Homo sapiens: one gene and its partner. The protein of the gene in region 2 purifies or fractionates together with the protein of the main gene of each other region. This does not show direct contact. Each region holds a gene or a part of one and is shown on either strand. Other genes may lie near its edges.

The links. Proteins that work in one complex are often made in the same cells at the same time.
Region 1: the proteins of ST7L (region 2) and MACO1 purify together in Homo sapiens (co-immunoprecipitation; 2 studies listed by BioGRID and IntAct, with this or other methods). This does not show direct contact.

Annotation. Positions count from the first base shown.
Region 1 is NC_000001.11:25,454,565-25,462,149, reverse strand, and holds part of MACO1 (macoilin), read right to left. Parts: intron 5,498-7,585; coding exon 5,319-5,497; intron 3,760-5,318; coding exon 3,258-3,759; intron 1-3,257. UniProt on the Homo sapiens protein: Plays a role in the regulation of neuronal activity.
Region 2 is NC_000001.11:112,573,557-112,581,141, reverse strand, and holds part of ST7L (suppressor of tumorigenicity 7 protein-like), read left to right. Parts: intron 1-1,765; exon of another isoform or gene 1,766-1,835; intron 1,836-2,724; coding exon 2,725-2,797; intron 2,798-4,053; coding exon 4,054-4,156; intron 4,157-5,908; coding exon of another isoform or gene 5,909-6,016; exon of another isoform or gene 6,017-6,028; intron 6,029-7,585.

The sequences.
Region 1 (7,585 bases), about 87 Mb from region 2:
AGAGACTGCTGAGTCCAGGCTGCTCCATCTGGATAACAAACCCACTCTCTAGCTAACAACTCAAACATGTCAGGTTTGAATCAGTCACAATCTTATTGACATGGATCAAAACATACATGAAGTCAAATGAGGAAACAGAGGCGACGGCTAAGGAAGGGTGGGAGGAAGTAAGATAAGACCTCCTCCAACCAAGCTGGATAATCTGCTCAGATAGAGGCTTTTCCTTTTAAACTCTTTCATTGCTGTTCATCATAGAAAAATGTGAAAATGTATGAAAATAAAAAGAAAAAATAAATGCCCAATACTATCAAGGGATAACAACTATTGTTAACAATTTGGTTATTTTCCCTTTAAATCATTTTTCTATGTATATTAGAAAAAATTGTTTTTCATTAAATTGCTTTCTCCTTTATTCATGAAATGCTTTGACATACTTCCCCATATTCTTTAATATGGCTTGAAAGTATGATTTTATAGTATCTATATGAAAAGTTTATCAAATGGATGGACCATAATTTATTTTAAATTTCTCCCATTATTGGATATTTACATCACCCTTTTTTTTGAGGGGGGGGAAGGAAGAGAACCAACATTTATTGAATGCCTGTACCTTAACAACAGCACTATTCTATTAGTTTTATCTCAACTTTCCAAGAAATGGAAATCAGAGGGGTCAAATAATATGCCCAAGGCCACTCAGACAGTAAATAGAAGGTCCAGGATCCAACCAAGGTGTGATTTAAAAACCTATATTCTTTGCATAGTATTCTTTATTTTATTTTATTATTATTATACTTTAAGTTTTAGGGTACATGTGCACAATGTGCAGGTTTGTTACATATGTATACACGTGCCATGTTGGTGTGCTGCACCCATTAACTCGTCATGTAGTATTAGGTGTATCTCCTAATGCTATCCCTCCCCCCTCCCCCCACCCCACAACAGTCCCCGGAGTGTGATGTTCCCCTTCCTGTGTCCATGTGTTCTCCTTGTTCAATTCCCACCTATGAGTGAAAACATGTGGTGTTTGGTTTTTTGTCCTTGCGATAGTTTGCTGAGAATGATGGTTTCCAGTTTCATCCATGTCCCTACAAAGGACATGAACTCTTCATTTTTTATGGCTGCATAGTATTCCATGGTGTATATGTGCCACATTTTCTTAATCCAGTCTATCGATCCCCTTATTTTTTATAACATTAAAAGTTGAAAATAATACCATGGGAGCTTATAAACCTACTTAAATATAATGTTGTCTATTAGTCATTTGATAGTAAGTAGTTCTCCAAAACAGAGTAATACCTGGGACACTGTAGGTCAAGGCAGAGTACGCATTAGTGACCACAAGAAGCAGCATACTCCTTAGGTGTAGGCACGGGGGCACTGGACCCATGTCATCATCTCCAGCTTACTGGACAATTAGCCATCTGGGTCCTTGAACTTCTCTACTAAAAGCAGATCAGATAGTAGAGTCAATCAATATCACAAACCATCATTTAGTAATAGCTTGACCGCTATTACTAAACTTGTGTCAGCCTGGGCAACATGGCGAGATCTCCTCTCTACAAAAAAATTAAAAAATTAGCCAGGCATAGTGGCATGCGCCTGTAGTCCCAGCTACACAGGAGGATGAGGTGGGAGGAAAACCTGAGCCTGGGGAGGTAGAGTCTACAGTTAGCTGTGATCACGCCACTACACTCAAGCCTGGGCAAAACAGTGAGATCCTATCTCAAAAAAAAAAAAAAACATGTGTAGGAGAAAGGATGGTAAATAGCTGTGACAGATGTTTTGTGTATAGCATTTAGTGAATTTGTGGGATATTCCTCTGAAATAGAAGGTAAACTAATTGGTCTTTCTCCCATGGGCATCTGGAGGAGAGTTCTCTTCCACGTGTTTTTTCTGCTGGGCACAATGGCCAGAATGTCCTAACAAATGGATATGGATGCCAGCCAGGCAACAGCAAATAGCACACTTCCAAAAGTAGCCTGGGGGCTGTGAAACCTCTAGAGCCTGTATTAGTAGAACCCAAATATACCTCGCTTAGTTTAACTGCCAATCAGAAAATTAAAACAAATTAATAATCTAGTTCATACCATTTATAATGCTGGAAAGCCTCCCTCCTAGAATAAACGGACTGCCTAAAGGGCTGCCTAAAGCAAGCCAGAGAAAGAAGAATATAACTTACTGGAAGGGGAGAGTTTCAATTGCCCTCTTGAGTTACATACACACAAAAAAGCTCCAGTTTAGATCTCAGTTTCCAAATTAAAGATCTGAGGTGAAAGGAACATATTTGTGTTTGCCTAACATAAGCCATATAAAATATAGTAAAATTAAGTCTGAGCCAGTCAATGTAATAAAACAATGTTATTCTTTTATGGCCGGGCACGGTGGCTCACATCTGTAATCCCAGGACTTTGGGAGGCCGAAGCAGGTGGATCACCTGAGGTCAGGAGTTTGAGACCAGCCTGGGCAACATGGTGAAATCCTGTCACTATTAAAAATACAAAAAAATTAGCCTGGCGTGGCGGCAAGCACCTATAATCCCAGTTAGTTGGGAGGCTGAGGCAGGAGAATCACTTGGAGCCAGGAGGCGGAGGTTGCAGTGAGCCGAGATCGTGCCAGCCTGGGCAATAGAGCAAGACTCCGTCTCAAAAAAAAAAAAAAATTCTTTTAATTAAAATGAGAAAAGCAACATTCCTAATTAAACTTTGTGTCTAACACTGTTTCTCCATGGATTTTTGTGAAAGAGATTGCTTTTCAAATCTAACTTTCCCAGAGTTATCTAGGATAATTCATATTCTAAGTGCAGAAAAACAAACAGAAAAACAAAACAAGCACAAAGTAGTAAGGACAACTTTCTCACCCCTCTCCTGCAATGTATATCTGTTTGACAGAGATTTGCGTGAACAAGCACAAACTCTTCTTTTTGTGTTTACGCCAAGAGAACTCTGGACATGCAAACAGAAAAGGACAAGGACCAAAGAAGTGCCTTACAACACGACTAGAAGAATCAAGTTACAGGTCAATTTGTCACATGTGGGAAGTAATCAGTGTCACTCATTATTCAGAACACTGCAAAGAGCTGAAATCAATGCTTCAACACAATAACACAAGGTGGCCAACAAACTCATGTAAAACACCACACGTCACTAGTCACAATATCTGATTACAAACAATCCCTACAGGCCCATATGGGAGTATGTCAAGAGTATGTCAAGTTTACTGGAAAGTGTTAGTAAGGATGCAGCATGTGCACTTACCTGACCAGTGCGTCTGGTTTGCTTAGCTGGTTATTAGGAATACAGTTTTCCATTAAGTCCTTGTGTGTACTTGGGCTCTTGCTAGTGCATTTCTGCTTCTTCTCATTTTTACTAGATGAGGAAGGAATGCTCCCATTTGTGGCGCTATGACTTCGAGGTGAAGAGTTCACAACTCCACTGGCATTTTTGTAATTTTTTGAGGAAGCAGTGCATGAGTCCTCTTTCAAGAGATTTTCTGTACTTCCCACAAGATCATTATTTAATCTTTTACTATTGATATGGTTTTCCATATACTCAATCTCTTGTATTTTAGAGTCTACAGGTTGTAGAATATTGTTGTTATTTATTCCAAGGTTGTGTTTTTTGGCATCCTTGTCCTTTTCTTTCCCTTTTTCTCGGTATTCTATCTCTGGCAAAGTTGTGGAGAGTTTTTTGTTGGCTGGGATACCTCCATTGTGGTGTATAAGGATCGAAGAATCCATATCAGGTAATCCTTTGGCTGCTACAATACCAAAAACAAACCAACAAACAAAAAGCCCCCACCGGAATATTTAGTTGTTTAACAACACAGATTAATTCAACAAACTATTATCTACACTTAAGAAATTCACATTAGTTTGCACACTCATTATACGCTAATCAAGAAGCAAATCCTCATAGTTTACTAGAAGATGTAGGAAAAAATAGAAGAAAATCCAAATACATTTGAGAAACTCTACATTTAGAAAATCATCATCATTTATGAAAATGATGGCCACTAAAGGTCTAGTCTTGAAAACAAGATCAGGGTTTTATAATTAGGTCACACTTTGTGTATTAGTCAAATCAAACTCGCCTATCACTGAGGTGAGAGGACAAAGGCAGATCCTAAGAAGTCATATTTTTTTAAGTGCCTGGAGTAAACGAACTGTTAATAACTTTACTGAAAAGAAAGAGGTTAAATGAAACAAAAGAAGAGGAATAATTTTAGGATACAGGACATCTATCCTTTTTCTGGACTCTAGTGTTGAGGTAATAAGGAAGTCTGTATCATTTACCAGACCACTCAGAAAGAATTTTGTGTATTGGGTCTACACATTCCAATTTATTAAGGTCTACTTGAAGAGATATTTTTGCACCACATCACACAAAAAGAAAATTTTGAAATATATTAAATAAAAACATGACCTCAAACTTTCAACTTTCAAACCAATGGAAACTAGCTACTGCCAATTATCTATTTCTATTGGTCAAATGCCCATGAGAGAGATTCCATTAGAAATGGTTCAATTTAAAATCTGCATTACATTATATGAAGCATTTAGAACACGACCTATCCATCTTGGCTCTATTCAGAAGACATCTGGCTTCTGAAGTTCAATTCTACATGTCTACATCTCCATTGTGCTTATACTTTGGTTCTTGGCTTGCTTCAATTACCAGTTCACATAGTTCCATAGTATTTTGTTGCTGAGAATATATATTTTAAAATACGTAAAACAGGCTGGGCATAGTGGCTCATGCCTGTAATCCCTACACTTCAGAAGGTGGAGGTGGGAGGATTGCTTGAGATCAGGAGTTTGAGACTAGCCTGAACAACACAGTGAGACCTCATCTCTACAAAAAAATAATTAAAAAAAATTAGCCAGGCATGGTGGCACGTGCCCATGGTAGCAGCTGCTCAGGAGGCTGAGGAGGGAGGATTACTTTGCTCCCAGGAGTTTGAGGCTGCAGTGGTCCCTAACTGTTATCACTGCACTCCAGCTTAGGCAACAGAGTGAGACCCTCCCTGTCTCAAAAAACTAAATTTAAAAAAAAATCAGAATTAAAATATAAAAAAGATATAAATATATTTTAAAATAATAAAATAAACATATTTAAACACATAGTCTTCAGACAGTATGTAAAAAACTTCATTCACCATCTGTATTTCATTGACCAAATAAAACAATGACCCTGAGGAGGAACACCATTAGACAGAAAAAAACAAAATCCTAGCTACTTTTCCAGAAAAGAAAATTCTACCAAGAGACAAAATAATGACTAGCCTATTGAGCCAACAGCTTTAGGGTAAAGACCTACCTTCCTCGGCCTCTTTTTCTTGCTTCTGTAGCATCTGTTGCTCTGGAGGGAGAGCTTGTTGAAGAAGTTGCATGTAAAACTCGTTCTCTTTTTGTACTTCTTTTTGCTTCCTTAACCGCATTTTGTAGCTTACGTAACTTTTGAAGCCAAACCCCAAAGTTACCACAGGGTACCCAATACTAGAAAGAAGACAATCCAGCCAGTAATTGTAGGTTTAAAATGAACCACATGTGCCTCAAGCACATGAGAATACCTATGGCTTAAAAATTAAAAATAAATTCTAATTGATGATGGTAGTTGAGAAGAGCATTCACTAGACACACAAATAAATGTAATGTCTACTGTGGAAATCAGAAGCAACTGGCACACAGAACAAAACCCCCAGGAACAACAGGACTGCTAGACCGTAAGACGACACTTCCCATTAGACGTTGGCATTCTTCAAATTAATTCAAGGAGTCACCACAGTGACTGTCAGATACAGTGGCTAATAATGCCTTTGAAGAAATATTGAAGAAACTGCCTTATGCATTAGAACTTAGGCAGATACCTGTACCCTTTTTTTTTTTTTTTTGAAATGGAGTCTCGCTCTGTTGCCCAGGCTGGAGTGCAGTGGTGTGATCTCGGCTCACTGCAACCTCCGCCTCTCGGGTTCAAGTGATTCTCCTGCCTCAGCCTCCTGAGTAGCTGGGACTACAGGCCTGCATCACCATGCCCAGCTAATTTTTGTAATTTTAGTAGAGACAGGGTTTCACCATGTTGGCCAGGATGGTCTCGATCTCTCGACCTCGTGATCCACTCGCCTTGGCCTCCCAAAGTGCTGGGATTACAGGTGTGAGCCACCACGCCTGGCCTGTATGCTTTTAAAAACTAAAAGGGTAGAGACTTTACAGGTAGCCAAAAGTAAACATAAGTGTTAAAAAAAAAAATCACAAGGACATCATTTGATTTTCAATACTAGAAGGCAGGGTCAAATTCAGGTGACTAATTTAATCTTCTTGCTGCCTGAGGGGTACTGTCACCAGCTATTCCTTGAAGATTGGTTCACAAACACTCTGTCATATATAAATTCTGTCATACATAAATTCAAGAATCATTTAAATAAGTATCCGATATGATCAGTGCCAAGATTTGGTTTGTATCACCAAATTAAACCAGCTGTACTTAGAACTCTAATCTCTGGGATAGAAAGTTAAATATTTTCATTGAACTTACCAGCCTGCCTAACATCATTTCAAAGCCTCTGCAAACACTGTCAAGCCCATATAAGTTTCACTAACATGAAAATGTATCAATTTATAATTAGTCTAAATGTGGTCTCACTACAAACTTACGGTGACATGTTTTACTGACCAAGTTCATTTAATTTACTTGTTTGTAAAAAGACTAAAAATACTGGAAACAGTATTTTTTTAGTTGATTACTGTTTATTTTGGTTTCTGCCATAAATATTAGTAAAAATTGGTGTGTTTAGGAGAAACATACATTAGGTGGTAAGTTCCACAATAGATCTAAATAAGAACCAAGCTCATTTTTCAAAAATGTTTCATGGTTAAGATTAAATGAATAATATCTTAATATTCATTAACATAAAGAGAAATAATATTCATTCAAAAATTATTAATAATATTCTCTTACTTTTATAAATAGGCTAAGGAAATTCTAAATTATTTTAAGTTTCATGAATTAGCCATATATTTCATCAAGACCTTCTGGAATCATTACCTGATTATAATAAACATAGCTAACATTCATCAGACACCTATGTGCTTGGCATTAAGTTGAATACATGTATCACTTCAGTTCCTTTTTCCCATGACCCAGTGAGGCAGGTAAGAAAACCATGGCTTAGAGGCAGTGACAAGGCAACACAAGCTGTCAGAGGACAGAGCTGGGATTCACTCATCTGCCTGAAAAGGGGGGGCTCATGGTCTTTCCAACCATGCTGTACTGCTTTCTGGATCCATGTAAAATTTCTAAGAATAAATTTACAGTTGAACTTAACATTCTACAGTGAAATGAATTATAGACAAAGAATATATATAATACTGGCTGGGTGCACTGGCTCACACCTATAATCCCAGCACTTTGGGAGGCTGAGGCAGGTGGATCACTTGAGGTCAGGAGTTCGAGACCAGTCTGGCCAATATGATGAAACCCTGTCTCTACTAAAAATACAAAAATTAGCCAGGTGTGGTGGCACGCGCCTGTAATCCCAGCTACTTGGGAGGCTGAGGCAGGAAAATCGCTTGAAGCCGGGAGGCAGA
Region 2 (7,585 bases):
ATATGATCGTTATAATAGTCTTATGATGTTGTGGGACAAGTATTTTTACTGTCTCCAATTAACTGAATAAGGGAACTGGAATTTAAGAAGGTTAAAGTATTGGAGTAAGGTCTCCCAGCCAGTAAAAGGCAAATCCAGGTGTTTGATTTCTTAGTTCATTAGTCTTTCCATGGTAACAATTCAATATATATTGGTTATTTTTATTTTTTTATTGGAGACAGAGTCTCACTCTGTCGCCTGGGCGGGAGTGCAGTGGTGCAATCTCGGCTCACTGCAAGCTCCGCTTCCCAGGTTCACGCCATTCTCCTGCCTCAGCCTCCCGAGTAGCTGGGTCTACAGGTGCCTGCCACCATGTCTGGCTAATTTTTTTGTATTTTTTTTAGTAGAGATGAGGTTTCACCATGTTGGCCAGGATGGTCTCGATCTCCTGACCTCATGATCTGCCTGGCTCGGCCTCCCAAAGTGCTGGGATTACAGGCGTGAGCCACCGCACCTGGCAGTTATTTTTATTATTATGTTATAACAATACCAGTTTACCACACATGAAGTTTGGAGAATTTTAAAGACATAAAGCCTCCCTTCTTATCCTGAGAGAGGCATCAGCTTTTAACCTCAAGCTGAAAATTTGGGGTTACTATGCTTCTGGTGGTATCTTTCACTATACGAGAACACATGTAAGTCACATTGAAGGCTGGACACAGTGGCTCATGCCTGTAATTCCAACCCTTTGGGAAGCTGAAGCGGGTGGATTGCTTGAGCTCAGAAGTTGAAGACCAGCTTGAGCAACATGGTGAAAACCCATTTCTAAAAAAAATATTTTAAAAATTTAGCTGGGTGTGGTGGCATGCGCCTGTAGTCCCAGCTGCTCGGGAAGCTGAGGTGTGAGGATCTCTTGAGCCTGGGAGGTAGAGGTTGCAGTGAACCAAGATTGCACCACTGTATTCCAGCCTGGGTGACAGAGTGAGACCCTATCTCACAAAAAAAACAAAGAAAAAGGTCGTTTATTCACATTTGTCCTGTTATAGGTTCCTACCCATTTGCTTGGGAATCCCCATGACTTGGGAAGTTTGAAATGTGTTATACTTGGAAAGAGAAGTTTACTTCTTTTAAACATCTGGAATTCTTAAGCAATGCTTCAGAATAGTGTAGGCTCATGGAGAAATTTGTGAGAAATTCTTTCCATATGTAACTTACTGGATACATGGCCTGCTTATAATACTTATGATGAGCAAGCTTAGGGACTGAATGTAACAAACTGGAATAGGACCTGATTCATTAAAAATAAAATAAAACTAAAACTAATAAAGCATATCTAAGTTGATATGCTTCTGTATTTTCAGTTATTTTCATGAGTCCCAGTTTTTACCATTCCAGAATCTGGAGGAAGTTGAAAGCAAATTTACTTCCTTAGTTCTCCATTTGCTAGTATGATTCTGGGATCAGAAACATCTTCTGATAGCATTATTTTGGATATTCTTTTGAGAATGATTGATATAATTAATTTACCTACAGTTCCAGATGAAATTTTTATTTTCTAAAAAATAATAATTTAAGAAAAATAAATCTAGGAAGAAGAAAAATATCACCCTCGGTTGAATCAACCTGGATTTAACTACTGTTAAATATTTTAATTTTTTTCTAATATTAGTTTTTCTCTATGAATAGGTGAAGGTTTTACATAGTTCTAATTATACCATGCCTTTTCCCCTGAACTTACTATAAGCAGGTTTTTTTTTTATTGTTTTTTTTTTTTTTTTTTTTACAGAGTCTCGTACTGTCACCCAGGTTGGAGTGCACTGGCACAATCTCGGCTCACTGCAACCTCGGCCTTCCAGGTTCAAGTGATTCTCCTGCCTCAGCCTCCTGAGTAGCTGGGATTACAGGCACCTGCCATCACACCCGGCTAATTTTTTGTATTTTTAGTAGAGACAGGGTTTCACTATGTTGGCCAGGTTGGTCTCGAACTCCTGACCTCGTGATCCACCCACCTCAGCCTCCCAAAGTGCTGGGATTACAGGCATGAGCCACCACGCCCGTCCATAAGCAGGTTATTGTAGACATTGGTTGAACGCATTTCACCGTTGTGCAGACGGCTTTCATAGACATAATTTCATCTCGGTCAGAAAATATCATTATTTTGAGAGGTGAAAACTGAGGTCAAACAAGTTGCTACTAGCTCAAAGATGCTTAGCTGGTAAATAGTAAGATAAAGATTCAGATTCAGCTTTTTCAACTTCATATACGGGTTTTTCCTACTATATTATAGATTTTTCAACATCACGTCCAGGTTTTTCCTATATAACTATTGAATTTGCATTGCATTGTGAATTATTCTTTTTTTTGTTTTGTTTTGTTTTGTTTTTTTTGGAGACGGAGTTTCACTCTTGTTGCCCAGGCTGGAGCGCAATGGCGCAATCTTGGCTCACTGCAACCTCCGCCTCCTAGGTTCAAGCGATTCTCCTGCCTCAGCCTCCTGAGTAGCTGGGATTACAGGCATGCGCCACCATGCCTGGCAAATTTTTGTATTTTTAATAGAGACGGGGTTTCTCCATTTTGGTCAGGCCGGTCTTGAACTCCTGACCTCATGATCCACCCGCCTCAGCCTCCCTAAGTGCTGGGATTATAGGCATGAGCCACCATGCCTGGCCGTGAATTATTCTTATTAAAAAATTGTCTCAATACCTTTTTTGTAATTCCTACCTAAATTGAAAATTATCGTTACAGATATAAGCCTTCCAAAGTCAGCAGCAATCTGTTACACAGCAGCACTGTTGAAGACAAGGACTGTTTCAGAAAAGTACGTGTTATAAAAACTACAATGATTTGGAAAGACTGCTAAACTCAGTATTATGCTTGTCCTCTACTGACTTTAAACAATGCTGTTTTCCACTCTACTTCCTTCTGAATAGCCCTGGATCTTCTTGGGCTTTTAGGCTTCTTGCTGTGTGTAGTGGAAAGAGCAAAGTTTTTAGAGCTAACCTGAGCTCAAATTCAAACTCTACCACATTTTAGCTATAGGACTGTAGGCAAGTTAATCATTTTGAGTCTCTCCTTCATCTGTAAAATGAGACTAATATTGCAGGAGGGTTGTAGGAGGATTATGTGTGGTAAGTGCCTAAAGCAATATCTAGAAAGAAAGTACACACACCAAATAGTAACTATGATGATGATGATAAAGTGTGTAGTAGGGAAATAGGCTTATGTTATCTCTTCTTAGAGTATAATTCTGAGTTCTTCTGCTTTTCTTGTATTTTTGGCTACTCTTAGTGAATTCTCTTTATTGTGCAGGTAAGATACTCAGAAACCAACCAAATAGTGGCCATTTTCTTTCACCTTAGATTTTTATGCTTTGATATGAATTAGAATGGAATTTTCCATTTGTGTCCTCTCAAATAAGAATTTGATAAGAATGTACTGCTATTTCATGAGATTCTCTGGATATCACTGTGTTGCATTTATTACTTTATTACCTTTCCTAAAGTGTACCTTCAGTGGACTTCTCCTGAAGGCCTTCTTTACCTAAGTTTGAAGACTTTCATTCCTTATGCTGCTTTGTTTTTTCTATGTTGAACCCACAAGACTATACTTTTTTTTTTTTTTTTTTTTTTTTTGAGACAGAGTTTCACTCTTGTTGCCCAGGCTGGAGTGCAATGGCACAATCTTGGCTCACTGCAACCTCTGCCTCCCGGGTACAAGTGATTCTCCTGCCTCAGCCTCCCATGTGTGCCTGGGACTACAGGCACACACCACCACACCCAGCTAATTTTGTATTTGTAGTAGAGACGGGGTTTCTCCATGTTGGTCAGGCTGGTCTCTAACTCCTGAGCTCAGGTGATCCACCTATCTCAGCCTCCCAAAGTGCTGGGATTACAAGCATGAGCCACTGCGCCCGGCCAGCTTTAATTTTTTTTTTTTTTTTGTTAGTCCTCTGGCTTTGTTTTTGGCCATCTCCAGAAACTTCTTTTGATTCAAGGGGCTGTATTATTATCTAAATTCATACTTTTTTTCTTTTTTTTAGCATATTTATTTTTTCATTTTGTGGTTTTCTTGTAGATTCTCTCCAGAAACAGCCTCCAGAAGAGGATTAAGCACAGCAGAAATTAATGCCGTGGAAGCAATTCATAGAGCTGTGGAATTTAATCCTCATGTTCCAAAAGTGAGAAATTTTATGATAAAAATACTACCTTTATTTAAGTTTATCAAATTGATGACAGTTCGTAGACCAGAGTCTGGGTCACCATAATTTGGTGCAGAATTGTTTTAATCTGCTATATTTTGATGCTTATTATTCACCTTACAGGGGACGTTGAAACATTTAGGCATTTAGAAAGGTAGATAGGAGCAATAGTTAGCTATATGCTTTGTAATTACTATCAAAATATAATTTGAACTGTGTTCACTTAGCTGTTCTTTTAGTATAGTTGTAGAAAATAAATAATGGGTTGGTCTTAATAAAAGATTATTCATATTTCTTATCACTAAATCAAATTTCCTGTTACTGTGAAAGCTTTTTCTAGACAGATGCCTGGGTTTTGAACTAGGGTTGGGTAGACAAAAACTGAAGACAAACAGATTAAAATAATCAATGATAGGAGGCAGATGTGGAAATTCCCAGAAAAACTGGCTGATGCTTATTTCGTCCCCAATGAGTCTATATACTTGCTTTGTCTTTATATTGTACACCTTGCAGTTATACAAATTATTGCTTAATCTTTGTGTGTTACAACACAAAATTAAATTTTGGGGTTTGGGCTGGGCACAGTGGCTCATGCCTATAATCTCAACACTTTGGGAGGCCGAGGTGGGAGGATTACTTGAGCCCAGGAGTTTGGGACTAGCGGCTGGGCAATGTGGTGAGACCTCATCTCTGCAAAAAATATAAAAATTATCTGAGTGTGGTGATGCTTCCTGTTGTCTCAGCTACTTGGGAGACCAAGGGGAGAAGATTGCTTGAGTCCAGGAGGTCGAGACTGTAGTGAGCTGCAATCACGCCACTGCACTGAAGCCTTGGGTGACAGAGTGAAACCCCATCTCAAAAAAAAAATTGGGGTTCTACAAACAATGCCCCATGTTAGGAAGTATAGACAATTCAAGAATAGATGCCCTTACTACGGAAAGTAATTATAGCTATTGATTCCAGTGAAAGGGTGTTAATAGAGCTTGGAAGCTAAAGAGCTACAGTAAAGAGATTAATTGCTAAAAGATAATTTCCAAGAAAAGGATGTTGTAAGCCTGTTAGAGTAAGTAAAGATATGGTTAAGAAAAGTACTTAAATCCAAGAAAGAGAGTCAACAAATATTTATACCATTCTCTCATTAAGTGACACTGGTTCCATAAATTTAAAGACAGCGGTTCACCCATATCTATGGTTTTGCATTCCATGGTTTCAGTTACCACAGTCAGCCTCTGTCTGAAAATATTACATGGAAAATTCCAGAAATAAACAATTCATAAGTTTTAAGTTGCATGCCGTTCTGAGTAGCTTGATGAAATCTTACACCATCCCCCTCCATCCAGGCTAGTACATGACTCATCCCCTTGTCCAGCATATCCAACACTGTCTATGCTACCCGCCCATTAGTCACTTAGTAGCCAACTCGGTTATCAGATCGACTGTCATGGTATCATAGTGCTTGTGTTCAGGTAACCTTTATCTTACTTAATAGTGACCCCAAATGCAAGATTGACATATTGTTATAACTGTTCTATTTTATCATTAGTTATTGTTATTAGTCTCTTACTGTGCCTAAATTATAAATTAAATTCTATCATGGGCATATATTTAGAGGAAAAAACATGGTGTACGTAGGGTTTGGTACTATTTGTGGTTTCAGATATCCACTGGGAGTCTTAAAACATATGTACTGAGGATAAGGAGTGAGTACTGTAAACTTTTATTTTTCTTTAGACAGAGTTTTGCTTTCGCCCAAGCTGGAGTACAGTGGCAGAATCTTGGCTCACTGCAACCTCCGCCTCCAGAGTTCAAGCGATTCTTCTGCCTCAGCCTCCCAAGTAGCTGGGACTACAGGTGCGCGCCACCACGCCCAGCTAATTATTTTGTATTTTTAGTAGAGACGAGGTTTCACCATGTTAGCTAGTATGGTCTCGATCTCCTGACCTTGTGATCCGCCCGCCTCAGCCTCCCAAAGTGCTGGGATTACAGGCATAAGCCACCGCGCCCAGCCTTGTAAACTTTTTATTATGAGTTCTACTACACATGCAGCAAAGTGTATGAGACAAAAATGTGCATCTTAATGATTTATTACAAAGTAAATGCTTGAAAACTATCGAGATCAAGAAACAGAACATTATCAACCCACAGACGCCTACCTGACTGCCCTTTCCCATTACAACCTCCCTTCCTACCTAAAGGTAACCACTATTCTTATTCATTTGTATTCTTATTTATTAATTATGTTTATTTCCTCCCTTTATGTTTTTTATCTGTACTTTTTATTTATGGATTTTTTTTCTTTTTTTTTTGAGACGGAGTCTTGTTCTGTCGCCCAGGCTGGAGTGCAGTGGCGTGATCTAGGCTCACTGCAAGCTCTGCCTCCCGGGTTTATGCCATTCTCCTGCCTCAGCCTCCCAAGTAGCTGAGACTGCAGGCGCCCGCCACCACGCCTGGCTAATTTTTTGTATTTTTAGTAGAGACGAGGTTTCACAGTGTTAGCCAGGATGGTCTCGATCTCCTGACCTTGTGATCCGCCCGCCTTGGCCTCCCAAAGTGCTGGGATTACAGGCGTGAGCCAGTGCGTCTGGCTTTTTTTTTCTTTTTAAGACAGACTCTTCAGCTATTCGAGAGGCTGAGGCAGGAGAATTGCTTGAACTCAGGAGGCAGAGGTTGCAGTGAGCCGAGATAGTGCCATTACACCGCAGCCTGGGTGACAGAGTGAGACTCTGTCTCATTAAAAAAAAAAAAAAAGTCCGGGCGCAGTGGCTCACACCTGTAATCCCAGCACTTTGGGAGGCCGAGGTGGGTGGATCGCCTAAGCTCAAGAGTTCAAGACCACCCAGGGCAGCATGGTGAAACCCTGTCTCTACTAAAAATACAAAAAAATTAACCGGGTGTGGTGGGGTGCGCCTGTAGTCCCAGCTACTTGGGGGGCTGAGGCAGGAGAATCACTTGAGTCCTAGAGATGAAGGTTGCAGTGAGCCGAGATCGCACCACTGCACTCCAGCTTGGGCTACAGAGTGAGACTCCGTCTCAAAAAAAAAAAAAAAAAAAAAACAGGAAAAGAAAAAACGAAGACAGGGTCTTGCTCTCATGCCCAGGCTGGAGTGCAGTGGTGTGATCTTGGCCCACTGCAACCTCCACCTCCTGGGCTCAAGCGATCTGCCCGCCTCAGCCTCCCAAAGTGCTGGGATTACAGGTGTGAGCAAACATATGCCTGGCCCTGGATTTATAAATGAGTTAAAGAGTGGTCCCTGTTTATTTATTCTGTGGAATAATTTGTATAAAATTAGAATTATTTCTGCCCTAAATGATTAGTAAATTTGTTATTAAAGCCATCTGATTCTTCAGTTTTCTTTGTGAGAAGACTTTGAGTTACAAATTTCATTTCTTTAATAGTTTAATTACAAA